Homo sapiens: one gene and its partners. The protein of the gene in region 1 interacts with the protein of each later gene in a pairwise test. Each region holds a gene or a part of one and is shown in the gene's direction. Other genes may lie near its edges.

The links.
Region 2: the proteins of ANKRD46 (region 1) and FAM209A interact in binary tests that used the Homo sapiens proteins (3 or more experiments, as listed by UniProt).
Region 3: the proteins of ANKRD46 (region 1) and CLEC4D interact in binary tests that used the Homo sapiens proteins (3 or more experiments, as listed by UniProt).
Region 4: the proteins of ANKRD46 (region 1) and EFNB1 interact in binary tests that used the Homo sapiens proteins (3 or more experiments, as listed by UniProt).

What each region holds. Positions count from the first base shown.
Region 1 is NC_000008.11:100,521,754-100,528,778, reverse strand, and holds part of ANKRD46 (ankyrin repeat domain-containing protein 46), read left to right. Parts: intron 1-775; coding exon 776-934; intron 935-6,007; coding exon 6,008-6,224; 3' UTR 6,225-7,025.
Region 2 is NC_000020.11:56,520,716-56,526,657, forward strand, and holds FAM209A (protein FAM209A precursor), read left to right. Parts: upstream 1-4,028; 5' UTR 4,029-4,093; coding exon 4,094-4,342; intron 4,343-5,067; exon of another isoform or gene 5,068-5,088; coding exon 5,089-5,355; 3' UTR 5,356-5,437; downstream 5,438-5,942. UniProt on the Homo sapiens protein: May play a role in sperm acrosome biogenesis.
Region 3 is NC_000012.12:8,508,537-8,516,524, forward strand, and holds the start of CLEC4D (C-type lectin domain family 4 member D), read left to right. Parts: upstream 1-4,966; 5' UTR 4,967-5,196; coding exon 5,197-5,224; intron 5,225-6,699; coding exon 6,700-6,792; intron 6,793-7,988.
Region 4 is NC_000023.11:68,824,191-68,832,028, forward strand, and holds the start of EFNB1 (ephrin-B1 precursor), read left to right. Parts: upstream 1-4,830; 5' UTR 4,831-5,586; coding exon 5,587-5,714; intron 5,715-7,838. UniProt on the Homo sapiens protein: Cell surface transmembrane ligand for Eph receptors, a family of receptor tyrosine kinases which are crucial for migration, repulsion and adhesion during neuronal, vascular and epithelial development.

The sequences.
Region 1 (7,025 bases):
TTTGTTTCTGCAGGACAAAATGGGGTAGGAATTGACTGCAGGATTTAATGTGATTGGGGTTCTAACCTATTATTAGCGCTAAATAGCTGCGTGAACCGAAGCAGCTTATTTGACATTTTTTTCTTAGACTTTTTTAAAAAAAGTACTTGTCTCATAAAATGTAAATATCAAATAAGAATGAATCTAGAACTAGATTTATCCACTTTTTTGACTATATGTTCTCTTTTTTCTTTTCCCTGGAAGTAAAAAAAAAAAAAAAAAGAAAAACAAGGGTTAATTCAAAATTCAGCTACACTGGATGTTTGGCTCAGCTCTGGGTTTTACTTTTGAGTTAAACTGGACCCATCCTTTTTTTCCCCTTGGTGATTTGTTCTTCATAAACACTTTCTATAGTACAATTCAGAAAAAAATAGAGGCACACGGCTATTACTTCTACCATAATCTGCTGTTGAGGAGACATTCAGTGTGAGGATGGGGTCTGGAGGTGGGGGACGTGTTTGGTTAACAGGATAACGGCCTCTGTGATGAACTGTGCAAAAATCCCATCAGTCAACATCTGATTGCAGCCAGATGGTCAAGGCTCATGGTGGAAGAGTTGTAGTGAGCCAAATACTCCTTTAGTTCCCCACAGCCCTAGGGTAGGCCCTAATTGGGCCCATTCTTTCTTCACTGAGATCTATATAAGTGGGTACTAAAAATGGAACTGACAATGTAGTATAACTGCTATGATGGCTTCTTTATTTTTATAAACTTTTTTTTTTTTTTTTTTTTTTAGCAATCATCAAGGTGCTACCCCTTTAGTTCTGGCAAAGCGCAGAGGAGTAAATAAAGATGTCATCCGATTGCTGGAATCTTTGGAAGAACAGGAGGTGAAAGGATTTAACAGAGGAACCCACTCGAAACTGGAGACCATGCAAACAGCTGAGAGTGAAAGGTACTGGAGATACAACTTTTTTTTTCTCACTGTATTACTCATTCCTTGAACTCCTGGGCTCAAGCATTCTTCCTGCCTCAGCCTCCTGACTAGCTGGGACTATAGGCACATGTAGCCACACCCAGCAAGATAATACGATTTTTTAAGGGGAAAGTCACTTTAAGTATGTGGATTTATGGTTAACTTTGTGAACTTTAATATTCATTTGCTTTTAAGTGCAACTTGAACTTTATATAGGACCTTATGACTGCAGATTACAATTGAGAAGCTATTAACAGAAAGTACTACATGTCATGTGCGCATAATGTTCTGTTAGCCACCTGCTGTATTGACAGTACAAAGGAGAAATAGTAACAAATGAATCTGAGGGGAGGAAGCCGGAGCTTGATGATTTTAAGTACAGGTCACAAAAAGAATGGAATTTCAAAAAAAAGAGAAGTATAAGTAAAGCCAAGAACTTGGGCAATTTTAGAAAAGACTGAAAGGTAGTTTCAAGGGTAGGGAAGTGGAATGCTGAGAAACAAGAAAACAAGAGAGGGAAAGCAAGATAGTATTTAACACATGCACAGTTCAGTAATGTGAAAGTGAAAGTGACTTTCATATGAGTTGGAGCTAATGAAATTTGGATTCCTGTGAGTAATCGAAGCTAAGATGTGGTAACTGACAGGGTCTTGAATAGCTCATCATTTCTCATCTAGAAGCAATGGAGAATGCAGTTCAGAGAGCTCCAAAAAGGTGGCGCACCATCTTTTCTCCTGATGTCACTGGGCTCAACAGGTAAAGTTAATAGGCCAGACTTAGTTCTAGTAGCATATTATCTGGTTGACCACCATGCAGTTTCAGCCTTCCACATTATACGTGTGAAGGAAAAAGGATGCTGAGCTTCCATAGCCTCTTCCCAGTATTCTCGGTAGGTTGTAAATAGAATAAGCAAGGGCCCACATCAGCTGTTTACCTAGTAGCTGATGGACTAGGACTTGGATTTAGAATCACATAATCCACTTAGACCATTGGGATCATTGTTTCTGTGAGTTCTAAATGAAATCCTCTCTGTTTTTCATAGCTTACCCTTCATTTGATTCCTTTGTACCCATTTTTGCTTTCCTCCTCTCGTGTGCCAGATGATGTGCTCTTTGGGGACCATTAATTCCACTCTCAAGCTTAGGTCTATTTTGTTCAGATACTTTCAAGCACTTTAATACAGTCCTAAAGAAATCCAAGAGCTTTACTTCTGGAACAGTGCATACTCCTCTTGAGTGATCACTGAAAGCTGACAAATAGATAATCAAGAAGTCAGAGATGTATTTGCAAGCCCTTGTTTTTCTCTCCTCTGTACTTTGGATTGACAGAATGGCATAAGCACTTTAACAATATTGAGTTAACTATTATTTGTTAAAGATTTTTTCCTCTAAGATAACTTGAAATTTATTTTTATCTTTTTATGAAATAACATTAAGTACTTTAAGCTTCTTTACCATGAAAAACAACCAAGAATGTGTTCTTGTTTGGTATATTTTTAGGATCTTTATTTTGTTAATAGCCAGTTTCTTGGCACCCTTTTATTAGAAATATACTTTTAGCATTAGTTTGCCTCAGTTGTGATTACTTACTAAGAAGTGATAAGTACAAAATAATATTCCATTGGATGAGCAGTGGAAGTACTCCTGCTTCCTTCACATACCTGCCATTTCACTGCAGCATGAGAGTTTGTATTAATTGTAACACTGTATAAAGCTCGTTTTTCAAAAATTGAGTTATTAACACTTTTATTACCTAGTTTTCCTATCTTACTCCTACCCCTCAGTGTCATGGTAGAAATTCAGTGGTTGAAGCTTAAATCAGAAAGTTGAAAGGTAATGTCATTAGGAAAATGCAAATGAGGACCATAGTGAAATGCCACTTCACACCCACTAGGATAGCTGCAATTAAAAAGATAGATAATAACAAGTGCTCTGGAGGATGTGGAGAAATTGGAACCCTCATACACTGCTGATGGGAATGGAAAGTAGAGCAGCTTCTTTGGAAAAGTCTGGCAGTCCTTCAAAAAGCTACACGTAGAGTTACCATCTGACCAGCAGTGCCACTTCTAGGAATATACCAAAGAAAATTGAAACATATGTCCACACAAAACTTATATATGAATGTTCATAGCAGCATTATTCATAATAGCCAAAACATTGATACCACCCAGATATCCATCAGCTGATGAAGGAATAAACATCATCTGTTCATCCAATGGAATATTACTAATATTATTATATTATACTGATACATGCTACAGCATGGATAAATTTTGAAAACATGCTACATTGGAGAAGCCAGGCACAAAAGGCCACATATTACATGATTCTGTTTATGTGAAATGTCCAGAATAAGCAAATCCATAGAGACAGAAAGTAGATGAGAAAGTAGACTAGAAGCTGGGAGAAGGGGCAATGGGAGTGACTGCTAATAGGTACAGAGTTTCTTATAGAGGTGCTGAAAGTGTACTGGAATTAGAAGAGATGGTTGTACAATTTGGGGAATATATGAAAAGCCACTGAATTGTACAGTTTCAAAAGGTAAATATTATGGGATGTGAATTATGTCTCAATAAATGTAGATGAAAAAGTTTAAAGAGATTGGCTAGCACATGGCATTATGGCATAATTGTGTAATGGCTTTTTCTAGAGCAGAAGATAAAGCAGGGTTTTAAATGTATTTACTATAATATTTTCCATTTCTCTTAGGATTCCCCCAAGACAGCACAACTTCTGCAGGCCTTATAAGGGACTATAAATCAAGTTAATGAAAAATATTTCCCCACTCCTCCATATAACTCTAAGTTTAATTCCTTTTTACTTTGTAGGTATGGGATAACAAAAACAGTATAGCTATCACATTTTTTAAAAAAGATACATGCAAACACACCCCCCAAAGACAGTGTAGATATCACGTTTTTAAAAAAAGATTATACACACACCCCATTATGTTAGAATCAGATATTCCCTGGACAGTAGAAAGCATTTCATTGGATAAAGTCTTTATAGAATATCCCGATTGGCAGAGCTTCATGAGCTCTGAAGAACAATGAGAATGCTCATGGAATTTTCATTTTATACCTAACATGTATAAGGGCATGTCAACTCGTAATCAATAAATTTTACATAGGTCAAACTAAGCCTCTGCAGAACTGTGTTATCTATTTGTGGTTTTACTCTTTTAGGCCTTCTCAAAGTTCTAATCTTATTTTTAAACTTGCTGTCAAGTGTTCCAAAATTACTGTGGTGTTGTAGATTCCCACTGAAAACATCATCTCTTATTCAGAGAATAAACATGTTTTAATTATTAAAAAAAAAAAAGTTTGGGTGTTAAGCAGACTGGCCCATTAGGAAGTCAGTTTCCCATGATCAGAGAAGACCTCTAATGTTGGTAAAGGCTGAAGGACTTTTGTTTGATGGTATCAAGAAGTAAAATAAAGTTGTAGGTTAAAAAATGTCAGTTTTGCATGTTTATTCATAGTTCATAATGAATGAGACTCTAAGATACTGTTTTATGGGAGTTAGGAAGGATAGTAATGAACTTTGATAACCAGTAGATAGTTGATTCCTATGATCATGGTTATGGTGGCTTTAATCTAAATGATACCCTCTTATTGGGCCTGTATGTTGTGATATAACCATGAGTGCTCTTCCCTTAGTGCTTCCAAGTACCAAAGTCAGATGCAGTTTCTCTTTGTGGTAGTCGTATTTCTCATTGATAAAGTTCTGAAAACCAGAATCAGTGTTTTTATGGTATTTGCACTACCTTATTTTCAACTAGACTAGCCTTTATGCAGAAGAGAAATGAACATATTCTGTCTTACTGTACAAGATAGAACTAACACCAATAGGAAGAAACTATTAAGAATTCCTAATGACTAGGCCAGCTGTGGTGGCTCATGCCTGTAATCCCAGCACTTTGGGAGGTCAAGGCAGGTGGATCACCTAAACTCAGGAGTTCAAGACCAGCCTGGGCAACATGGCGAAACCCTGTCTCTACCAAAAATACAAAAATTAGCCAGCCATGGTGGCATGCACCTGTAGTCCCAGCTACCTGGGGGGCTGAGGCAGGAGGATTGCTTGAGCTGGGGAGGTGGAGGTTTCAGTGAGCTGAGATCGCATCACTGTATTCCAGCCTGGGCGGCAGAGTGAGATTCTGTCTCCAAAAAAAAAAAAGAATTTCTGATGACTAGACGAGTCCACATGTACAACAGGCTGAGGAGTAACCTTCCATTATTAGAGAATTACAATTAAAGAAGGAATTCCTTCATTGGTCAGATTATTGAACTAAATTAATAAAAATTCCCTTTTAACTTCAAGATTCACACACACTGTATAAGTGACTTTTTAGATTTACTCATCTTCCCCCCTCCCCCCAACAGACATTTACTTTCTCAGTTCTAGGGCCTAGAAGTCTGAGATCAAGGTGTCACAAAGTTGGTTTCTTCTAAGGCCTCTCTGCTTGACTTGTAGATGACTGTCCTCTTCAGGTGTCATCACCTGCATGTCTGCTTATTCGTATTAACACATTCTTAAATTATGAGTCTGCACTTTGAATCTTCTAAATTTAACATAACAAGAATGTGTTGTGGTTTAATATCTTGATGGAGACAACTCATAACCTATTTCAAGACTTCTGCTCAGGACACCTTAAAAAAAAATAGAGATGGTGTCTCGCTATGTTACCCAGGCTGGTCCCGAACTCCTGGGCTCAAGTGATCCTCCCTCCTTGGCCTGCAAAAGTGTCGGGATTACAGGCATGAGCTACCACGCCCAGCCAGGACCTTTTAAATAGAATTTTTAACTTGAGTTTACTAAATTCTAAACCAAGAGAAACATACTCATTACCATTTAGCAATTTACAGTTTAGTATATATTGTTCAGATACGTAAGCATGTAAGAGTGTGTATATATATATATGTGTGTGTGTGTGTGTGTGTGTGTGTGTGTGTGTGTGTGTATTTGGTCTTTTCTAAATAGTAGCCCTGTGGTTTTATGTTTTTGGAATTGCTGTGTTTTTTTAATGCCCTTTTTGCTCTTTCTTCTTCCACAGTGCCATGGAAAGCCATTCACTCCTCAATCCCAACCTGCAGCAAGGTGAAGGAGTCCTCTCCAGCTTCCGAACCACGTGGCAGGAGTTTGTGGAGGATCTGGGCTTCTGGAGAGTATTGCTGTTGATCTTCGTCATTGCTTTGCTGTCTCTTGGCATTGCTTATTATGTGAGTGGGGTGCTACCCTTCGTGGAAAACCAGCCTGAACTGGTGCATTAAAGGAGCTCATGGAAGATGAGGCAATTAATTGCCTGTTTCCTGGCTTCCAATGTTTGTTCTCAGTTTCTCAGAATTTTTCTTAGCGCAAAGCAGTGAGGGCAGTACATGTTCTTTTTGCATTTTTAATTATTGTAATCCTTTTAGATAATGATGTGTTCATTTGAACTAACTACATACTATGATCAAGTATATTGCATCCTAACGCTACCTCTGACTCAACCTGACTTTGTAGGAAAGCCTACACGTAGCCTTGTTTGATAAAAACACGGAAGTGACTAGAGAATGGAAGATAAAGGAAGAAGCTAGGAAGTCCTTGCTATCAAAACCTTATCCTAATATAGGACCAATTGAAGTATTCAAAAAGAAAAACAGTATCTTATATGATTAGTTTTTGTTGGTGGTTTTGTTTTCATTTATTTTTGCAAGAGCCACTTTTTATTTACTTTCTCTAGGGATAAGAGATAAAACTTGAAGTACTTTTTTCAAATCTTGTGTGCAAATTAGTATTGTTAGCATCTATTTGGCTTATTTTAGTATTTTTAAGTCTAGTCACAAACCAAACAAAACTTTTGAAAATGAGCTATATTTTGTTCAAAGATAATTGATTTGATCTTATATTTATTTGTTTTTAGGATAATTTTTGATCTTTTTGTAAACTGCTTTGCTTGTTAATATCTGTGAAAAATAAATGAGTTCATTTTGTTCACTTTCCAATTTTCCCGAGTATCCTAGTCATCAAAGATAACAGTTCATCAGAATTACAGTCAGAAAATCCTTTTTCTACTGAATAGTTAGCAGGGA
Region 2 (5,942 bases), on another chromosome or scaffold:
TCTTTTCTCTTTTCCCTAAGCATCGGCCGGTCTGAGAAAGAGTACAAAAGAGAGAAATTTTACAGCTGGGTCTCTGGGGGTGACATCACGTCAGCAGGTTCTGTGTTGCTCCCGAGCCGCAAAACCAGCAAGCTTTTATTAGCAATTTTCAAAGGGGAGGGAGTGTACGAATAGGTTGTGGGTCACAGAGATCACATGCTTCAAAGGCAATAAAATATCACAAGGCAAATGGGGGCAGAGCGAGATCAAAGTCCAGGGCAAAATTAGAATTGCTGATGAGGTTTCATGTCCCACTGTGCACGCATTGTCATTGATAAACATCTTAACAGGAAACAGGGTTCAAGAACAGACAACCGATCTGACTAGAATTTCACCAGGCTGGAATTTCCCAATCCTAGCAAGCCTGGGAGAGCTGCAGGAGACCAGGGCGTATTTCATCCCTTATCTACAACTGCATAAGACAGACACTCCCAGAGCGGCCATTTTAGAGACCTCCCCCTGAGAATGCATTCTTTTCCCAGGGCTGTTCCTTGCTGAGAAAAAGAATTCAGCGATATTTCTCCTATTCGCTTTTGCAAGAAGAGAAATATGACTCTGTTCTGCCCGGCCCCGCAGGCAGTCAGACCTTAAGGTTATCTCCCTTGTTCCCTGAAAATTGCTGTTATCCTGTTCTTCTAGGATGCCCAGATTTCATATTGTTCAAACACGTTTTACAAACAATTTGTACAGATAACGCAATCATCACAGGGTCCTGAGGCGACATACATCCTCAGCTTACGAAGACGACGGAATTAAGAGATTCAAGTAAAGACGGGCATAGGAAATTATAAGAGTATTGATTGGGGAAGGAATAAATGTCCATGAAATCTTCACAATTTATGTTCTTCTGCCGTGGCTTCATCCAGTCCCTCCATTTGGGGTCCCTGACTTCCTGCAACACCACAGCACTTCATTTCCAACAAATGAAATGAAAGCTGTGCCAAAATGAATGAAAGAAGTGCCGCCCCACCCCACAGCCCAGACAAGTTTGGCTCAAAGATCTGGTCTGCTTACCCACTGGTCCTGCTCTATTGGAGAGTGCTGTAGACTTTTGAATACATATAGGAAAAAGTGATTCCCATTATTAAAGACTGAACATTTCCAAATAACAAAATCACATGTGGCAAAACTTGTGAGCATTTCTGTTGTTTGGGGCCATTCCTGTAAACCACGTCTGTTTGCCCCTTACTGCTCCATCGCACCACAGCCACCAAACTTCCCAGCCGACTTAAGACACGGGCTGACTGAGCACTGTGGCTCCTGTCTGCAGTCCCAGCACTTTGGGAGGCTGAGGCAGGAGGACTGCTTGAGCCCAGGAGTTTTGAGACTAGCCTGGGCAACACAGGGAGACCCTGTCTCTACCAAAAATGAAATAAAAATTATCCAGACCCTGTCTCTACCAAAAACAAAACAAAAAAAAAAACAAAAATTATCGAGGCTGCAGTGAGCCAAGATCATTCCACTGCACTCCAGTCTGGATGACACAGCAAGACCCTATCTCAAAGAAAAGACACAGGCTGTGTATGGACATGGGGGCCTCTGAAAATAATTAGCCATCCCTCAAAGCTGCTGGAATGGGGAACACTGGGGACAGGGAGCCGCATGATGCCAAGGACAGGCCTCCAAACTGAGGTCACAGGGTGGCCCAAGGCCCTGGAAATCAGGGCAGCTGCCTCTACAGTGGGTGTAATTCCAGGCAGTAGCTGCCAAGCTGAGTGGGCCCCTGCAAGAAGAGAAGTGCCCGTCTTCTGGTCAACCTGGAGATTTGCATCTCTCCATCGTGCCCAGTCTCTGGCAGGAAGCCCCACTCCCCAGCCGACACTGCACCATGCTCATGGAGGAAGAAGCTGTGCAGCACAGCCCAACAGCGTTTTCCCCTTTCGGTTTTCTAGAGTAGTCTTGCAGAACTATTTTTTGGTTTTTTTTTTTTTGAGAGAGTCTCACTCTGTTGCCCAGGCTGGAGTGCAGTGGCACCACCTCAGCTCACTGCAACCACCGCCTCCTGGATTCAAGCGATTCTCCTGCCTCAGCTCCAGAGTAGCTGAGATTACAGGTGTGCACCAAAACACCTGGCTAATTTGTTTTTATTTTCAGTGGAGACAAGGTTTCACCATGTTGGTCAGGCTGGCCTCAAACTCTTTGACCTCAGGTGATCTGCATGCCTTGGCCTCCCAAAGTGCTGGGATTACAGGCATGAGCCACTGCCCCTGGCCATAGTCTTGCAGAACTACTTTGTCACTCCACAGAGATCAGTAGTTTAAGGCACAGCGAAGGTGCCCAGCTGAACTTTGATTATTTCCTGTGCAGCATAAAGTTCTGCTCCTCGGGAGTAAATCTGCAAATCAGAGCCTTCCTCAGGAAGATAGCTCTACAGATGACCCAGGGGAACAAGTACAAGCCGTGCGTTCCAGCACCCAGGATTTCTTGTTTCATGTCATTTTAAAGAACACATGGTTTCGAGTATACTATGGAGTCCTAGGTTTATTCCCAGCCTTGGCCTCAGTTGTCAAGCTAGCTGTTCCTTTTTACTTGGGGGATTCAGCCCCTTCCCATTTTACCCACCAACTCTTAATCATCTCCCCTGCTCTACTCAACCATCTTTTTCTGGACACTCTTCCTGCTTCCTGCATAACCTAGTTTAGAGCAGTCCCCTTATGCTAGTCTCTAAAGCTTCCTGTTCTTATCACAATTTTAATCAAAGTATACTCTCTCTCTTTTTTTTTTTCTTCCTGAGATGGAGTCTCACTCTGTTGCCCAGGCTAGAGTGCAGTGGTGCGATCTCAGCTCACTGCAACCTCTGCCTCCCAGGTCCAAGTGATTCTCCTGCCTCAGCTTCCCAACTAGCTGGGCCTACAGGCCTATGCCACCATGCCGGGCTAATTTTTGTTTAGTAGACATGGGGTTTCACCATGTTGGCCAGGCTATTCTCCAGCTCCTGACCTCAGGTGACCCACCTGCCTTGGCCTCCCAAAGTGCTGGGACTACAGGTGTGAGCCACCACACCCAGCCCAAAGTATACTCTTAACCCAGGGTGGGCACACACTGCTACGATCAATGATGGTGTGAGGTAATAGTGAGTGGTGGGGACTGTGGAGGGAATATGGCCACCGAAAGGACGGTTTCACTTGGCTGCAGCAGAGAGACTGGTTCCATGAGGGTGTGCACTCATTGTTTCTGGACCTCCCATATTTTCAAAGGAAGCCAGAATGTGGAGTTTTAAAGTGAAATGCCCCCCAATATTTAAGTACTGACAATTTTTAAAAACAATGTAGGCCAAACAAAACACATAGGTGGGCCGGGCGCAGTGGCTCATGCCCGTAATCCCAACACTTTAGGAGGCCGAGGCAGGTGGATCACCTAAGGTCGGAAGTTAGAGACCAGCCTGACCAACATGGAGATACCCTGTCTCTACTAAAAATACAAAATTAGCCAAGCGTGATGGTGGATGCCTGTAATCGCAGCTACTCAGGAGGCTGAGGCAGGAGAATGGCTTGAACTGGGAGGCGGAGGTTGCGGTGAGCTAAGATCATTGCACTCCAGTCTGGGCAACAAGAGCAAAATTCCGTCCCCAAAAAAAAACAAAAACAAATTTTTTGTTTGTTTAGTTTGAGCCACATAGGTGGCTCCAAATTTGTAGGTAGCCTGTGGTTTAATATCTTTCTCTCCCGTTTAACTCAGCTCCACGGGGCACATGGCATCTCCCTCTGCTCATCACAATGTCTGGATCAAACAAATGAAAAACAAAAACATGATGGCCTCTCCCAGCAAAGCTCCAGGGTTGGAAAGAGTCCCCTGGCAGGGAATTGGCACCCCGTCGTGCCCATCCTCTCTCTCTGACTGCCTGCTGGAAATGCCCCCATCTCCCTTTGAGTCCTCCTCCCGGGCAACCCCTGTGACCTGTAACCTCTGTCCTGAAATCATCACAATGGCCAGAGTGGCCTCAGCTCAGGGCCTCTGTGACATCACCAAGGGCCTGGCACCAGGTGCCCAGTCTCCCAGTTGCGAGGGCAAGCAAACCCGTCATGAGCAACTCCCTTCCCCATCTCTGCTCACCATGTGGACGCTGAAATCGTCCCTGGTCCTGCTTCTGTGCCTCACCTGCAGCTATGCCTTTATGTTCTCTTCTCTGAGACAGAAAACTAGCGAACCCCAGGGGAAGGTGCAATACGGAGAGCACTTTCGGATTCGGCAGAATCTACCAGAGCACACCCAAGGCTGGCTTGGGAGCAAATGGCTCTGGCTTCTTTTTGTTGTTGTGCCGTTTGTGATACTGCAGTGTCAAAGAGACAGTGAGAAGAATAAGGTAAGGATGGCTCCATTTTTTTTACACCATATTGATTCAATCTCAGGAGTCTCAGGGAAACGGATGTTCTAGTGAGTCTAGACGGCACCGTTGGGTATAATGAACCGACCTCATGGTCCTGGGCAAAGCTGGCAAATTCACTTCCTGATGTATCCTTAGTGAAGACAATTGTCCCCAGATCCACAGATACTGGGACAAAGAGTGGAAAGTGACCTCTGCTTACTGGCTCACAGATTTTCTGGTTAGATGGATTTTTTCAAATGTAGGATAGATTCAAGAACTTATGGTGTGTTTCAGAAAGTCAAAATTATTCACAGGGCCAGATTCACTAGCCCCTGTTTTTTAAATTCTTGCTAGTGTTTGACTTACTACAAAATCCTGAGCTAAATGGAAATGATATCATTATCCCAACAAAATATGAGACTTGTGCTGAAGAGATAAAGATGTAAGGTAGTTTGAGCTGGTCCTCAAAGTGACCACAAACAACTCTTTCAGGTAGAAAAGGAAGGGGAGAGAAAGTGCGTTCTCCCCTAGAAAGACCCAGCACTTCATAATCCTGTGCCCAAACTGATGAGAGCAGGGATCGGCAAACCCTTCCCGTAAAGGGCCAGGGAGGGTGCGAATATCTTCAGCTTTGTGGGCAGTATGGTCTTCTTGCAACTACTCAAGTCTGCTGTTGTAACACGAACTGTGTCAAAACCAACAAAGTTCACAATATTACTGACCTTGAGTATCTTTCCTGACAGGAGCAGAGTCCTCCTGGCCTTCGAGGCGGCCAACTTCACTCTCCATTAAAGAAAAAAAGAAATGCTTCCCCCAACAAAGACTGTGCATTCAATACCTTAATGGAACTCGAGGTGGAGCTTATGAAATTTGTGTCCAAAGTGCGGAATCTTAAACGTGCCATGGCAACAGGTAGTGGCAGTAACCTCAGGCTTCGAAAGTCAGAGATGCCTGCAGATCCATACCATGTCACGATCTGTGAAATATGGGGAGAAGAAAGCTCTAGCTGAATGGATTTGTGTGTCAGGAGAGAAAAAAGTTGAGTGTTGACAAACTGTATGCAAACTAATAAAACTATTCTGAAGAAAAGAACTTCCATGTTTGAGAGCTTGCTTCTTTTCTTTTTTTCACTAGAAGAAAAAGTGAATGGGAGACCAGTAGCCATAGCAGTGATGGTTTTGTTTTTGCCTCTCTCACGTCATCTAGAGCTGTGGGTGGTGAGAAGAACACCGAAAGCTACATAATAGTACGTGATGAGCTCGTGCTTCTGTTCAATGGCCGCGGGTGGACGATGGAGCTAGGGAAATCTGGGATAAGATGCTGACGTCACTTCCATACAAACTCTTGCTCTCTATAGCATCTATTTGTGCAAGATGCAGAACTGCTTTTTATCTTTGATTTATTACAAAAGACAGCATTAATGATAGTTTTAAAATGGTAAAATGATTCAATTAGGAGGGGTGTATTCTAGAGTTATCTGATTCTCTCACCACAAGAGTCCTTTCACTCATTCCCTGTCAAAGGTTCCGTGTATATTGACTTTTCCTTCTACCACACTAGCAGTTACATTTGTCAATAATTGGATTTAAAAAAAAAA
Region 3 (7,988 bases), on another chromosome or scaffold:
ACCCCAGAGAGACACAGGGCTGCTGCCAGTGGGAATGTTCAGCTGGAGATGGGGTGGCTACGCTATGAGCCCAAGCCCAGGGCCCTGCCTAGTGAAGAGCAGGGGGTCAGGGGCTCACAGGAAGGAGAGGCTGGCTCCCCTCTGTATGGTGGCTGTGTATGCTCGAGGTGCCAGCAAAGCAATCAGAGTCTGTGTTCCGTGTTCGTTCCCTAGCCCAAGGGCAGCAAGGGCAGTACCACTGCAGTGACAGCGGCAAAGTGGCTGTCAGTGGTCTCTGGGAACTCCGCCCCAGACAGATACAGAGCCACAGCTAATGGGAATGCTCAGCTGGGGGTGGGGATACCATGCAGCGGGCCCAAGATGGGGGCCCTGCCTGGTAGAGAGTAGGGGGCAAGGGATTCACAGGGAAGAAAGACTCGGCTCCTCCTCATGTGGTGGCTGTAGCATGCTGGAGGTGCCAGGAAAGCAATCAGTCTCTTTGTTCCTTCCCCAGCCCGAGAGCAGCAAGACTAGTATGCTGTCATGGCAATGTAGAGAACCTGTGGTTTGTCTCTGGGATTTCCTCCCCAGAGAAATGCAGAGCTGCCACCACCTGAAGTGCCTAGGTCAAGGCAGGGCAGCTGTGCTGGGGGCTCAGGTGGGGAGGCCTGCCTAGTGAGGAGTAGCAGGCACATGAACTTGCATGGAAAACAGTGTGGCCACTTTTCTGTAAGGCAGTTGTTCTATGCTGGAGGTCTGTGATAGTCCTTAGGCTCTTCACCCTCTTCCCAGCCTGAAGGCAGTAGGGGCGGGGGCTATGGAAGTGGCAAAAAAAAAAACGGTGTTCCTGTTGTGTTACCTCTGCGAGCTCCATCCCATAGAAATGCAGAGCTGCTACCAGCCCAAGTCCTCAGGCGGGGGTGGAGTGGCTGTGCTGGGGGCCCAGGCCAGTGGGCTTTGCCTGGCAAGGTTTAGCGGAGGCCTGCAGTCTGTCTGCTCCTCAGCACCATGAATTCGACTCCATGCAGCTCTCCATGTAAGTGCAGGCCTGGTGGAGGACAGGACTCGGGGGGTTGTCAGGGGCATCCCCTGTGCCCAGGATTGTACGGGTTCATGGCAGAAGTGTGGGTCCCTAGGGACTGTCACTCACTCATCATTTCCTCGTTGTGGGGAGCCTCCCTTGGCTCCATGCCAATCCCGGGTGGGCAGCTGTCCTGTCTCACTCTTCTTTGCTCTCTGTGGGTTATGTTACTTCTGTGATGAATCCCAAAGTGTCCTCCTTCAAATTATGTGAATTTGTTCTTGCAGTCCTGTCAAATTAACCACTTTACCTTTTACCTGTGATAAAGATTGTGTCTTTACTACAGAATCTCTCTCTCCTTTTTTTTTTTCTTTTTTTTGCCTTAACAAGCCTGATTTCTATTATCTAGGAAGATGTTAGGATTTAATTAACAGCTCTGTCACGTCTTCTTCAACTCAAAAATAAAGGTTAATGGAGGTTTTGCTTATTGTTCATATTGTCTTTTTGTAATCTTAACTGTCTTGGACACAGCTTTTCATTCAGCTCTGAGAAGTTTCTAGAGTAGGGTTTCCCTCATATTTTTGAAATTATAGTCACTTTCTGAGAACAACAGAATGTACCAGACCTATTCTATTTTTTTCCTGTTCTAAGCAGGATTTATGTATTCTCTAGGAGTCCCAGGTCCTTTTGATAGAAATAAATATTACTTTAACCAAAAATCTAGTTTCCAGGGTTGCATATCCGAGTTTGTGGGTTAGTGCTATTGTTGCTATTGGAATACTTCTTGTAGTGACTGGCGGTGCCGGAAAATATATGGATTGCCAAATCTATAATTTTACCTCCTCCCATCCCCAATTTAACATAGTAAAGTAATATTTCACTGAAGATCACAGAATATATATACACACATATCATTAAAGTAATATTGTAGCTTAGGGAAGAGTTCAGGGAAAGGGCTATATTCTGGAAATTGTAGAGATCTTTCTTAAAGGATCTCTAAGCTGTTATGTACTTGTCTTAGTGAGCTTGGGCCACTATAACAGAATACCATAGACCGGTGGTATGAAAGAGAGACATTTATTTCTCACCGTTCTAATAGCTGGAAGTCTCAGATCAGAGTGCCAGCATGGCAGAAGTGTGGGTCCCTAGGGACTGTCACTCATCATTTCCCCATTGTGGGGAGCCTCCCTTGGCTCCATGGCAATCCTGGATGGGCAGCTGCTCTGTGTCGCTCTTCTTTGCTCTCTGTAGGTTATGTGGCTTCTGTGATGAATCCCAAAGTGTCCTCCTTCAGGTCATGTAAATTTGTTCTTGGAGTCCTGTCAAATTAACCACTTTACCAGTGAGGGCTTTCTACTAGCCTTGCAGATGACTGCCTTCTGGAGAACTCATCTCTCTTTTTTTTTCCTCTCTCTCTCTTTTTTTAAATTTTTTTTTAAATTTTTTTATTATACTTTAAGTTCTAGGGTACATGTGCACAACGTGCAGGTTTGTTACATATGTATACATGTGACATGTTGGTGTGCTGCACCCATTAACTCCTCATTCTCCCAGTGCTATCTCTCCTCCCTCCCCCCACCCCACAACAGGCCCCGGTGTGTGATGTTCCCCTTCCTGTGTCCAAGTGTTCTCACTGTTCAATTCCCACCTATGAGTGAGAACATGTGGTGTTTGGTTTTCTGTCCTTGTGATAGTTTGCTGAGAATGATGGTTTCCAGCTTCATCCATGTCCCTACAAAGGACATGAACTCATCATTTTTTATGGCTGCATAATTTTCACATAGCTTCGTTTCTACAATCACAACATTCCTGAGGTAAACAGGCAAGGTGTAATCATTCTTTTTTTACAGAGGGAGAACAAGGAACTTAGGGAAATCAAAATGGGGACACTAACAGGATTTCTGTGGAAATTTAAGTAAATGAGAATTTGTAGTAAATTTTTTATCCTAAAACAAATAACTCACTTTGGCCGAAAAATGGGATGTTACCCAAGGTCCCCTACTGGGCCGGCGGAGAAAAGGACCTGCCTCCTACAGGGGCACAAACAAGGCAGACTAGGACCCAGCAGTCGGCCAAGGCCCAAGGGTCTCCAGTAAGGAAAATGTAAAATGTGAGTGTGTGAGACTGGCCTAAGATATAGGAAGAGCAGTAAAGAGAAGAAAACTGACGAGCAGAGGGGGAAAAGAATTATTAAACATGGTCAAGGAGCAAGGAGCACGACAAAGCCTCAGGATTTCTTCAAGGGATACTGCTGTGCCAGGTCTCAAGGGCAGAAGGATACAAGCACAAGACACCAGGGCCACCAAGCTGATGGGGTTACTGAGCCTCTGGACAGCACCTTCTGATAGGAAGCAAGGAAGCACACTACAAAGGCTGCAATCCTGGAGGCTGAGACAGTCAAGAGGGAGTGGAAGGGCCTCTGCTGCTCTGGGAAGGTATCTTATAGGGCAAATAAGCTCTTACTGTGTGCCTAAGAGAAAGGAAGAGGGAAGCGAGGCAGGTGTCATGGCCTTAAGAACTTTCTAGAGGTTTCTATTTATTGACATTTGACCTAGACCTCTTCATGAGCAAGGCGCAGCCTTGGGCTACAGGTAGGAAAGTCAGCATCCTACTCTCTCCTCAATTCCATCTGTTAATCCACCAACCCAAATCCCTCCCACCCCCACCTGAAGTCCAAATAAGGTAAAATGATAAAATGATGTGCTGTTCTCTCAACAGTTGGCTGAGTCTGAATTGGAGGGTAGGAAGCATTTGAAGCTCTGCCCATTTAGTTCCAGAACAAAAAATAAGCAGAGGCAGGAGGTGGAGAGCAAAGACGCTGGCAGCCCTGCGTCTGGTCTTTATAGCTGTGTCTTTGGATTTGTAGGCCACTCCTCAACTTTTCAGCTCCCGCACGATTCCTTAGGGCAAGCGACCAGTGGTTGACACCGCATATACACCTGGCTTAAAGTTATTGACTCGCTGCCAGTTGGAGACCCAGCTGTCCTCTGGACTCATCATCGCAATGATTCCATCAAAGGAGGAGCTGGTGCAGCCATATAGCATCTCTCAGTTACCCTTCATCTGTAGATATGCATCTCAATAGTCACAACCATCATATTCAAACTGGTCTATAGTACCTTGACCAGTGAACACAGCAAACAGGCCCACAGATGCCACAGGTCCTTCAGCACCGTCTCCAGGGCCATCTTCTCCAATGAGAAGAGCAACAGCAAGGAAGATGGCCACAGCCTGAGCACCCGCAGGAAGTAAACAGCTCGTTAGCCGGGTCTCTTCTTATAATTCCATCATGAGGACCCCATTCTCATGACCTCATATTAAACCTAATTACCTCCCAAACTTTTGACCTCCAAATGCCATTACGTTGGAGGGTAGTGCTTCCACCAATGAATTTTGAGGAGATACAGACATTCACTCCCTAACAGTGCTATAAATGAAGTCAGGGACCCTGATGGTGTCTTTATCACAGAATCTTACATTTTCTTTGTCTTTGCCTTAACACAACTCTTTTTGCTCACCTAGAAAGTTCTTGGGATTTAATTAACTGCTCTATCATCTCTTCCTCAACTCGAAAACAAAGGTTGCTGTGTCTTCACATGCCATGTACACACAAGGTATACTTTAAAAGTTTTTGTTCATTGTTCACATTGTCTTTTGCTCTCTTAGACTCAACTTTTTATTCAGTCCAGAGAACTTTTTAGTATAGAACTCACCCCAAGAATATAACTGCCTTTGAAAATATAATATTCACAAAAAGAATTTAAAAAGAGGGGACATTTACTAAATTTTTATTGGGCATAACAATTATTTCTTTTAGGGCGTTGCTAAATTTTTTGTCTAAATGAAAAAAAAAACAAATTGAGAAATTCCACATTTCACACTGATCTAGTGATCTCAACATACTTGTGGGTTTCTACTAACTGTTGTTTGGTATTGCTTTCTCAATTTCCTTTTTTTTTTTTTTTCGCCTCATCTCCCGGAATGTATCAAAGGAAACCCCTGTCTTTGAAAAAGACTTCTTTTGAGCTAACTTTCTTATACTGGTACCTTTCTAATCTCACTACAATATGTAACATTGGTGTTCGATCTCAAGTATTTCTGAATATATTCCCCTATCCACAGAAATATACTCTGGGGGAAAAAAAATAGAACAAATTCTTGCCGTCCTGACCATTGAACAAGAGACTAATTAGACAATGGGGCTAGAAAAACCTCAAAGTAAACGTGAGTACTTTCTCTCCTTTCCATTTCAAAGAAGCAGATGGAATTATACTAATTTAAAACATATGAATTGATGGTAGTTTTAAAGATTGTTGATGATGACGGGGAGAAGGAGGTGGAAGGAAATAAAAATGACGTTGGTGAAGAGGAAGGACATAGAGTCAAATAAGTTGGATAACAGAAACTTCTTTATAAAATGTATATTGGACCAAGAGGGGAGATAAAATATATAAAAGAGAAATAAGATGAAAAGAAAGAGAGTAATATGAGAAGATTCTTTTAAAGAAAAAAGAGAAAAGGAAGATGTAGAAAAAGCATTTAGGCTTATGCTGTATCAGAGGCTCTAACTGTCCCATTTTATGTTTGACTTAAGTGACACCAGTGGATTTGTATTGTGATAATATTAAATAATATTTTTGATAGATATATAGAACAAGTGTGGAAATGTTTAAATTAAAATTAAAGTTTTACTTTATCTCATCACCCTACCATGGCAAACTGTAATCACAGTGTGATCCTATTGAATTACCTTTTTAGGTAACAATATTTCTTAGAGATTTTTTGCATCAATATATACTGATTACATGCTTATTTAATTACTATACAGAATATCATTGTGTGAAGGGACCATAATTTAGAATTTCCACTATTGATAATATACATGTAAATATTAGATTACAGTATGTGTTTTCTATTTTGAGAAGTACTGCAATGAATATCTTTTAACATAAACAAGCTCAATTATTTCTATAGAATAGACACCTGTAATTGAAATTATTGTGGCAAATGAAATGCATTTAAAAATGGATAAATGCCACTAAATTGATCCTTCTAAAAGGCATTCCTAATTTTCCAGTCCAGGCAGCAGCATTTATTTTCTCACTAAGAGTGCTTATTTCCCCTCAGCCTTGCCAACACTGCATGTACTTAATTTACTTAAAAAATCTGATGTGTGAAAAGTTATACCACAATCTTTTCGTTTACAGTTCCCTGATTGGGCATATTTTTGTTTGATTAGTGGCTATTTATAACTTCAGCAAATTAAAATTTCAGCAAATTTCCTGCTCAGAGTTTTGCTCAGTTTTCTAGTTGATTTTGAAATACTTTATCCAGTGCGGATATTAATATTATGAGAAGACTTTCCTTTCATACGTTCCTTGACTCTAACATTGCTTGTGTTATATAGAAGTTTTAATTTTTATGTACTCAAATTATCTATTCTAATGGCTCTTGGGTTTTGTATCTTACTTATAAAATTCTTTTCATTTCAAAATTACCAAGAAATTTTACATTTTTCTTTCTTATTTATTTATTCATCAATAAGCTCTAAAATTGATTTATTTGGAGAAAATATTTATGCTCTTCTCTAGATCTGAAATATTTGGTTTGCTGTCACTTTTAGATTGCTCCTTGGTAGAATTAGCTTTCCTAGCTTGTAGCTGAGAGGAGGTTAATCTCTATTTTTCTTTTGGTCCTAGTGGAAGGAGGCATGCATCCCCAGCTGATACCTTCGGTTATTGCTGTAGTTTTCATCTTACTTCTCAGTGTCTGTTTTATTGCAAGTTGTTTGGGTAAGTTATTAGCCAAAGTAGAACTCTTCTTGAATTATTATTTCCAAACAACTTTTCTGAAGTTGCTCTAAGCCTTTTGGTATCTTGATTTTTCCTAGCATAACCTATCTATAATATCTTCAGGGTCTTGCACTGAATATTCAGAGCTACATTCTTGACCTTCTGTCTTTCAATGGTGGTACCTTGTGATAGAGATTGATTGATGGAATTTAGACCATTTTCTGTACATGTAAAAGTTGGTTACTATAGCAAATTTCCCCCCATTTTGGACTGGGATCACAAAGGGATACATCTTATGAGAAAAGAGTAAGCAGAAGAAAAATAACTTTCAGATAGACTGGCTTTGAAAAGAACAAGGTTGGAAGAATTGTTCTCTCTCTCTCTTTCCCTCTCTTTCTTTCTTTTTTCCTTTCTTTCAACCTCTTTATTGATGTACGATTGACATATGAAAACCTGTACATATTTAATGTATACATCTCAATTTGGGGGATTAGTATACACCCTTGAAACCATCACCACCATTAAAAAAATTCTTTCTGATATCAAACATAAAATAATTATAATTAAAGTAATATGATATAGGTGCAAGACAAATAGACTAGAGGAAAATAAAGGAGAGCTTGGTTACAGATCCTGCATGTATATAAGACTCTTTATATAAAACAAAAGAAGATATCTCAGACATATGGGAAAAGGACAATTTTGTTCAATTAATGTTGCAGAGCCCATTGATTATTTATATTTAAAAGATGAAATTGGTCTCCTGCATCACACTGTATACAAAAACAAATCTAGAGCAGATTATTGTCCAAAATGTGAAAAGTAAATCAATAAAGTTTTAAGAAGATAAATGGAGAATATCCTCATGACCTGGAGGTAGAGAACGATTTCTTAAACAAGCCACAAAATGCACTAGAAAATAAACATTGACAAATTATACTACATTAAAATGAGTTACTGTACAACAAAACATACCAGTAACAGTGAAAATAAAAAGCCATAGGAGAAGATACTTGTAATGCATATAATTAATAAATAATTCACATGTAGATTATATACAAATTTTTTCAAACCAGTAGGAAAAATACTTACAATAAAAAAACTGGGCAAAGTCTTAAATAGGTACTAAAACAAAGAGAAAAATGAAATGTCTAATAAACACACAAAAGTGCCAGCCTCATTAATTAATTATCAGG
Region 4 (7,838 bases), on another chromosome or scaffold:
AGATGAGGCCTCTGAGGGCCCAGGGTCCCAGCTGCCCTTCAGAGGCTTGTCCACCTGTTATGCACACCAAGCCATGCTCTGGCTCTCAGATGCCCTATTTCAGGCTCTTACAGGGACAGGGGGGCAGGTCATTTGCCTGCATGGAGCTTGAGGCTTTGGGACAGATGTCTAGGAGTCCAGGGTAGGGGTAAGGGGTATGAGGAGGAGATAAAGAGAGAAGGAGGGAGGGGGACCAGACCCATCTGAGGGAGAGAGGGGCTCCTCCCATCCCTAGTGCCATTCTGCCATCAACCTGACACAGGCTAGCATCTGGCAAATCAAGATGATCTCAGTGCAAATACCCATAAACCAGGCATGCAGCTGGGGCAGGGACAGGGAAGGGCTGGGGAGAGAGTCTGGCTGAACCTTTGGCCTTTGGGACGACCCCCTTCTTCCCCAGCCACCGGGAACTCTCGTGGGTGCAGTGAAAACAGACTTCCAGATCTTACCCGCCTGAGGCTAGATCTCACCTAGCCCTGGGGTATGATGCAGCCACGTGGGGAAAGGAGGAAGAGTGGGAAGTCTCAGGTCCCACCCCAGGCTTGCCCAGAGACTGACCTACAGATAGGGTGAATTGGAAAAAAGCAAAGTATTCATTGAAGAGAAAGGGCAACCCAAGATCAGCATAGACCCCAGCTGGTCTCAGCTAGGAGGCAAGTGTGGGCAGAGGGAAGGACAGCAGAGAAGGGGGTGGTGGGAATAAGCTGGCTGAGCAAAAGAGCACTTTGCAGACTGAGGTTGGTGGAGCAGAGGATGCAGCCAGATTGAGCCTGGAGCCTTAGTTTTCTCATCTCTAAAACAGGTCTATCAATATCAACCTCAGGGATGTTGTGAAGATTAAACAAACATAATAGAGCACCAGGTGAAAGCACCCAGCCACACTGCCTGGCATACAGTAGGTGTTTAATAAATGGTAGCTCTCCCTCTCCTTGTAGGGAATAGGTGCCAGTGTATGTGAGATGTGCAGGTACAGGTAGTAGGTCTTCTAGGAGGAAAATAGGAGGCATGGGGCAGGCTAGAGATGACTGCAGACAAGAGAGAGGGTTGCTAGCCCCACTGGGTTGTCCCAGTTGGCAATGCCTTGGACCTCAAGTTAGGATCCTTGCTCCCTGACTCTTCAGTCTGCTTTTCTAACTGTTAGCTCTGGCTGGGCCTGCTGGCTTTCCCAGGCCCACACCTTGGCACACACTCCTTTCCACAGCCTTGGTATATCAGTGTGGCCTAGTTTACATCCTGACTTTTCCACTTCCTGGCTGGGTGGCCTTAGGTGAGTTATTTCACCTCTCTGTGTCTCAGAGTGCAAGGCAGGCAGGGAGAAGTCAAGGACAAGGGCCACAGAAATAGAAAGGTGTGTGCATGTTCATACACATGTGTAGATGATAGTGAACATGAGAAACTCTGGGGGCTAGATTTTAAATTCCACGAGGACAGTACCCGGTCCTGCCACCTTCTGCTGAATAAATGGATAGGTGAGAAAGAATGAGAGTTTGTGTGCATATATGTACAAGTGTGTGAGAATATGAGAGGAGATAAAAAATGTGCATGTGCCACACAAAGCATGTGTGAACAGGTGAGAACGTGTGTGACTGGGGATGAGAGTGTCTCTGTGGGAGGCTCTGCAGAAGAGTAAGAGTTTCCATTTAGTAAGTACCACAGTGGGCCAGGCATGATACTAAGCCCTTCACATGCATTGTCTCATTCACCCGTCACCACGGCTCTGTGAATGAGGGACGACCTCTAGGTTACAGACAAGTAACTGAGGCACACAGAGGTGAACTGACTTGCCCAAGGAGACACAGTTCATAAGCAGGGAACTCTGTGGCTCTGAAGTTTATACCTCCCTGCTGCTCATGGGTGTGGGAAGCTGAGCTCAGAAGGAGCAGCTCTGCTCTCCCAGGGCTGCACGATGCCCGAGGCTTCCTGCAGCTGCCAGATGTTCTCCTGCATCTCTGGGTCCAGGATCCCCCACATACAGGTATCAGTGTTTGGTGTTCCTTGTGGGCAGGGCTTGTTGGAGCTGCTCTTTGTGTCAACAGGGATGGCCCCGCTCAGAGGTCAGCACAGAGGCACTGCTCAGGAAATGCTGGTGGACTTGAAACCTGATAGTTGTGTGTGTGTGTGTGTGTGTGAGCACGTGCGTGGATGTGTTTGTAATGACACAGTAACCTGGGAGAAATGGGTGGGGAGTGACTGCCAATGGTATAGGGAGGGCTTGGATGAGAGGGCCCCCATTGCTCACAGATCCTGACTTCCTCTCAGGCTCCCTTGGGAGTAATTTTTCCCTACCTCGGGGGCCTGAATCATTACATCTGAGGCCCCGCCAGGGTGGGTCAGGAGGTGGGAACCTGGAATCACTGGCCTAGCCATGGCAGGGAGTAGGCTCAGCTCTGCTCCTGAGGCCCCTGTAGCTGGTGTGGGCAGGTTGAGGCAGAAAGGCTGTGCTGTGAGCAGGGATAAGTAGCATGTGGAGCAGGTCTGGACATAAAGAGTCTTCTTCTCATTTCCTCTGCCACCCTGCCCACCGGGATTAGGTGCTGGCACACTCAGGAACTGCTTGTCTTCCCATGTTTCCCAAGACTGGCCGCATAGCCTCATCTCCCCATCCCCCACCTGGCCTTGGGCTCTCCTCCTGTGGGGCACCGGGCATGCTGGCTGTGGGGAGGAAGAATCAAGGCTGGCTCTAGGGTTGGCAGTGGTGGTCTTAGATGAGAAGAACTCTGGGCTATGGCCAGGAATATAGATGAACTTTCCAGGCCTGGCAACCTCTTGAAGGACAGTGAGGGAAGAGTCCTGGCCAGCCCCAGGCTGCTGCTGTCCATGCACGACCCAGCCTTAACCAGGAATGAACCAAAGAAGCAAAGAAGCAAGGATTGGCTGGGAATTTGAGCCAGTATGGTACAGGGGAATGGCCACAGGCTTTGGAGACAGATGTCCCAGGAGTCAAATCCTGCTTTCACCACTGATCAGCTTGGTGATCTCAGATGAGTCACTTCTCTCTGAGCCTTACTTTCCCCTGTAGGTAAAATGGGGATACTGAAACTCATTTCAAAAGGTTATGAAAGGAAAAGCATCTAACTTGGTTCTTGACAATAGTAGGCACTCAGTAAGCAGCAGGCTGCTTTCTGTATTCAGGTTTTGATGTCCTAGCATGCACTCCAGGGATCCCAGTCTCCCAGCTAGACTACTGGTGTGTCCCTACACCCTATTCATCTCATCTCTCCTTCCTTACACCCCAATGCAGGGTCCAGCTGAGAGCTCAGAGACCCCAAACAGCTCCTTCTTTCCCTACCTACCCAGAGCCACTTCACCCTCAAGGGCTGCCCCTGGAAGTGGGAAGGGCCCAGATTTTCCCTATTTTCTCCTCTATTTGGGAGAAAATAAAAAGACAAAATCTGGGCTATTCCCACCTCTACAGCCACAAAGATCATCAGAGGATCCACTGAGAAACGCAGTAGCTCAGTCACCTATTAAGCGAGATGATGGACATGAAACTGTGTGAATGGTGGAGCACTTTGGGAATGTTGCTCATCTAATTATCTCCATAAAGAAAAAGTGGGGAGACCTTGTATTCTTGGCAGTCCCTAAGCCTACCCCAAACTCAGATATCCTTCTAGTTCTTTCCCTTCCTCCCCATACAGGGTGACGGTTTTTGCCAAGGCTACGCCTGTCCCAGGTCTTGTGCTATGGCAAGCTCCGGGTTTATCCCAGGCGCCCGCAGTGCTATGGAAGTCCAGCAGGGGGAGACATTAGCACGTGGGTACGTCCTCTGGGGTCCGACCAGCGAGAGTGGGTCGGACCTGGAAGGTCTGAGCTATGGGATCGAGCCAAGTTATAAGCAAAGAGGCAAGGCGGGGCGGGAAGAATGGGCCAGGGCTGGGAGACAAAGACCCAGATGGCGAGGCCGGGACAGGCTGGAGTCCGGCTTCTCCGGTCCAGGATGCCCGCTTTTGCTTTTTCAAAAGTCTCATGCCCTGTGCTTTTTCCTCTTTGCCCTCGAGGTGTCTTTCTTTATCGACGTGCCCTCTCATCCCCGCTTGCCTATCCCGGGACCTTGCCCGCGCCTTCGGACAGGACAAGACTAAATCTTGGCTCCAGAGGTCCCACAAGGCTCCCCCAGAAAGCTGAGATTCCGAAGGCCTGGTCCCCAGGGGCGATGAACACGCCTTCTCTCCCCACCACACCCCACCCTGCTCCCCGCCCCACCTCTAACCCCAATCAAGTACTGGACCCTCACCAGTTTCCCCCTCCCACTGTTCTCACTTTTATGTTCCTGACTCCGGGTCCAAGTGCAAGCAGACAGTGCATTTTGAGGGCGAGAGGAGGAAAGCCCACTAAAGCCTTACGTGGGACTGGACGAGGAGCAGACAGGCTGTCCTTGACACGGAGGTGGGCACAGAGCAGGACTTCAGGGGTCCTGTGTGTAAAAAGAAAATGGAAATACTTTCCTGGGGTACTTGGGACAGGGTCAGTGGGCTGGGGTGTTGACCAGACGCGTGGAGAGGAGAGCAGGCCGGCAGCTCTTGAGAGTGCCAACTTCCCACGGGTTGAGCTCTCTGGGAACAGGACTGAGAGGGACCCAACCCTAACCGCACGAGCCGCACACTCAGATTGGTGCCATCGGGCGCGCGGCGTCCTTAAGAGCTCCCTGAAACCCCGCCCCCTTCCTGCTCTGGGGGCGTGGTATGGGGCAAGGACCCCGCCACTGAGCTTGCTATTGGCTAAGAGAGCAGGGTTGGCCTTGCGTTCGCCTGAGCAAGGGAGTAGACAGCACAGCGGCAGCGGAGGGAGTCTATGCGAGCTGGACAGCAGTGGGAGGTTTGTGAGGCTCGCACTGGCCGCAGACCCTCGGGCTCGATCGCCCGGGAGCCAGGACTCGGCGACGCGAGGCTGCCGGGCTACCCGGCCGAGGCTTCGGGGGCGCAAACTAATGGGACTGGCTCGCTCGGCAGCATCTCCCCGCTCTTCTAAGTACACTGAGCAGGGCCCGCGCTGAAGTAGAAGCTGTCCGGGGGCGCGTAGCCCGGAGTCCCAGTGTGGCCCGGAGGAACGGAGCCCGTGCCAGGGCGGCCCAGTCGGGAGCCCGGGGACCGAGCTTGTGCTGTGGGGAAACCCCCACTTCTTCCAAGGGACAGCGATCCCGGGACGGTCGAGGCGTCGGGGCGGTCACCGAGACCTCTGCGGGAAGACCCCGTCGGGGAGAGGGCGCGCAGCCCCGAAGCGTCTCGGGAAGTCGAGCGGAATCGGGCGGGATCACCCGGGGGCGCAGAGCCCCCGTCGCGCCTCGTGCGGCAGCGGAGAGCCCAGGAGAACGAGCCCTCGGGGGCCGAAGCCCATGCCCGGGTTGGGGGCGGCTGCCCAGTGAGTCCTCCTGGCCGGCCGGGCGGAGAAGAGCGACACCGAAGCCGGCGGGAGGGGAGCACTTCAAGGCCGGCGGCTGCGGAGGATGGGCGCCTGAGCGGCTCCGAGCGCAGCGCGGCAGAGGAAGGCGAGGCGAGCTTTGGTGAGGAGGCGCCAAGGGATCCCGAAGTGCAGTCTGCCCCCGGGAAGATGGCTCGGCCTGGGCAGCGTTGGCTCGGCAAGTGGCTTGTGGCGATGGTCGTGTGGGCGCTGTGCCGGCTCGCCACACCGCTGGCCAAGAACCTGGAGCCCGTATCCTGGAGCTCCCTCAACCCCAAGTGAGTAACTTATCTCCTCTGGACGCTGGGGTGGGAGGCACTCCTTCAGGGTGAGGCCGCACGCCCCGGAGTGCATGTGGGGAGGTCTTCGGAGGAGGAGCGGCGCCTCATTTTGTCTCCGGCTTTTTCGAGTGTTTTCCTGCGGGCGGGCGGATGGAGCAGGGTGCGGCGGGGTGGGGTAGGGGCACTTGGCTGGGTTGTGACCCCCCGGGCTTCCCACCCCCTGCCTCTGCACGTCTTGGATGAAGTCGAGGTGGTCGCACAGGCGGAGCTGGGGAGTCCGGGCGCCCGAGAGCGCACCGGAGAACTGAGTGGAGGCGAGAACGCAGCTCCCTCCGGGGCCCCTGGGAACGTGGTGATTTTCGCCGAGAGCCGCTCCAGGAGCGAGCTTGACTCGGGCGAGGGACGAGGCCAGAACACGGGTTCCTCGTTTGCGTAGCTGTGGAGGGAACACAGAGCGGGACCCGGCGCTTGGGGTGGGTGGCAGCGCCAACATCCCCACTCGGGCTTCTCCCATTTTCATTTCTCTTTCTTCCCTGTTTTCCTCCCTGGCTTTTTGCTTTGCTGTCTCTTTTTGCCCCCCGCCCCTCCTTTCTCCCTGCCGGAGCGGTAGAAAGGCGGGCGCTGCTCCCAGGCTCACAAAGGCAGCGGGTGGAGAGGGGCGGAGTGGGAGAGTGGTCGTTGGGTAGTGGGGGTTCGAACCAGTGCCCGTCAGGGGTCCAATGGAGCCGGTAACAGAGCTTCAAGGGCCCGCCAGGGCGGAGAGTGGCGGCCGAGCTGTTGAGGGAGGTGGGTGGAGAAGGAGCGATTCCTGCCCAGGCAGGTCCCCTTGGCCCCCGAGTCTGTCCCCCAGATTGGGAAGCTGTGCTTAGTTTTCCCCAAGGGGTTGGGGCGGGGAGTGGGCAGCTATATAAAGGACATCCTTTCTTTTCTTTCTTCTCCTTCCTCTGCACAACTACCCCACCACCACCACACACACAACCCCTCCAAACAACACGCACACCTTTCAGGGCGGTGGCTCAGTGGTTTCTGGGCTTTTAGTGGGAAGTCGCTGGGGCTGTTGTAGTGACCTCTGGACCTTCTCTTTTGGCATCCAGGACTCAGGTTGGAACCAAGGGTCAAAATTGCCCTTCCTCTCAATTTTCTGGAGGTCCCAGCAATGTGCGAACAACCCCACTTAGCAGGAAACTGGGGAGCTTTGACCTGCTCCATCCGTGATCACTGATTCCTGTATCTCAAATTTCTTCCTGTCCACTCTTGCTGCCCCACGCCGCCTCCCCCCCAGCCCCGCCCTGCCCCGGGTAACTTCCCAGGCTCCTGCCTACCTTGGCCTCTTGGGTCCCAGGGACGTTTGATCTCTCAGCCCTGGAGTAGGAGAAGGCAGCTTTAGTTTTCTTCTCCTCGATTAAGGTAGAGTCCTATTACTGGTTGGTGGGATGGCTAAACCAGGGTTGGGGTGGAGGGCTCTCCCTGGGTACAAGGAAAGGGATTGGCAAGAATTTCTTTCCTACCCAGAAGCCAAACGGGGTACAACACTCTCCTAACAGCAGGGGCTCAAAATGCTCTGGGAGCTCTGGGCTGCTTGAGCCCAGGGGGGAACGTTGTGAAGTGCTCAGTGGTTGTGAAGTGCTCAGTGGTTGTGAAGTGCTCAGTTACCCTGGTAAGGGTGGAGGCTGGAAATGTTCTGTCTTGAGCCAGGAGAGTTGAAATCCGCCTGGGGTAGCCCATCATAGGGGCTCATGGGAGTGACCTAATTGCTCTCTCGGGTCTCTAACCAGAGATAGCATGCAGCTCCACAGCTGGAAAGGAGCCCTCCTGCAGAGTTGGGGGTGCTGGAAGAAACACGATCTGTCTGTGCTTCCCCCTTTTTGTGCTCAGAGACTTTAGTGCTCTGGACTGGCTTACAGGTTTTGGGGGGTGGTATCCTCTCTGACCCCCCTCCTCATCTACCTCAAGCTGAGGGCAGGCATTGTGGGGTGAGGATGGGGGGTGGCTGAAGACTCTCTAGAAACTGTCCGAATTCCATTCTGTAATTGGGTAGATCCTGGGAAGGATCAGAGACTGATCCTGGTGCACCCTCCTTCCATCCAGGCTCAGGGGTCTGGAATGCAGCCACTGTCTACA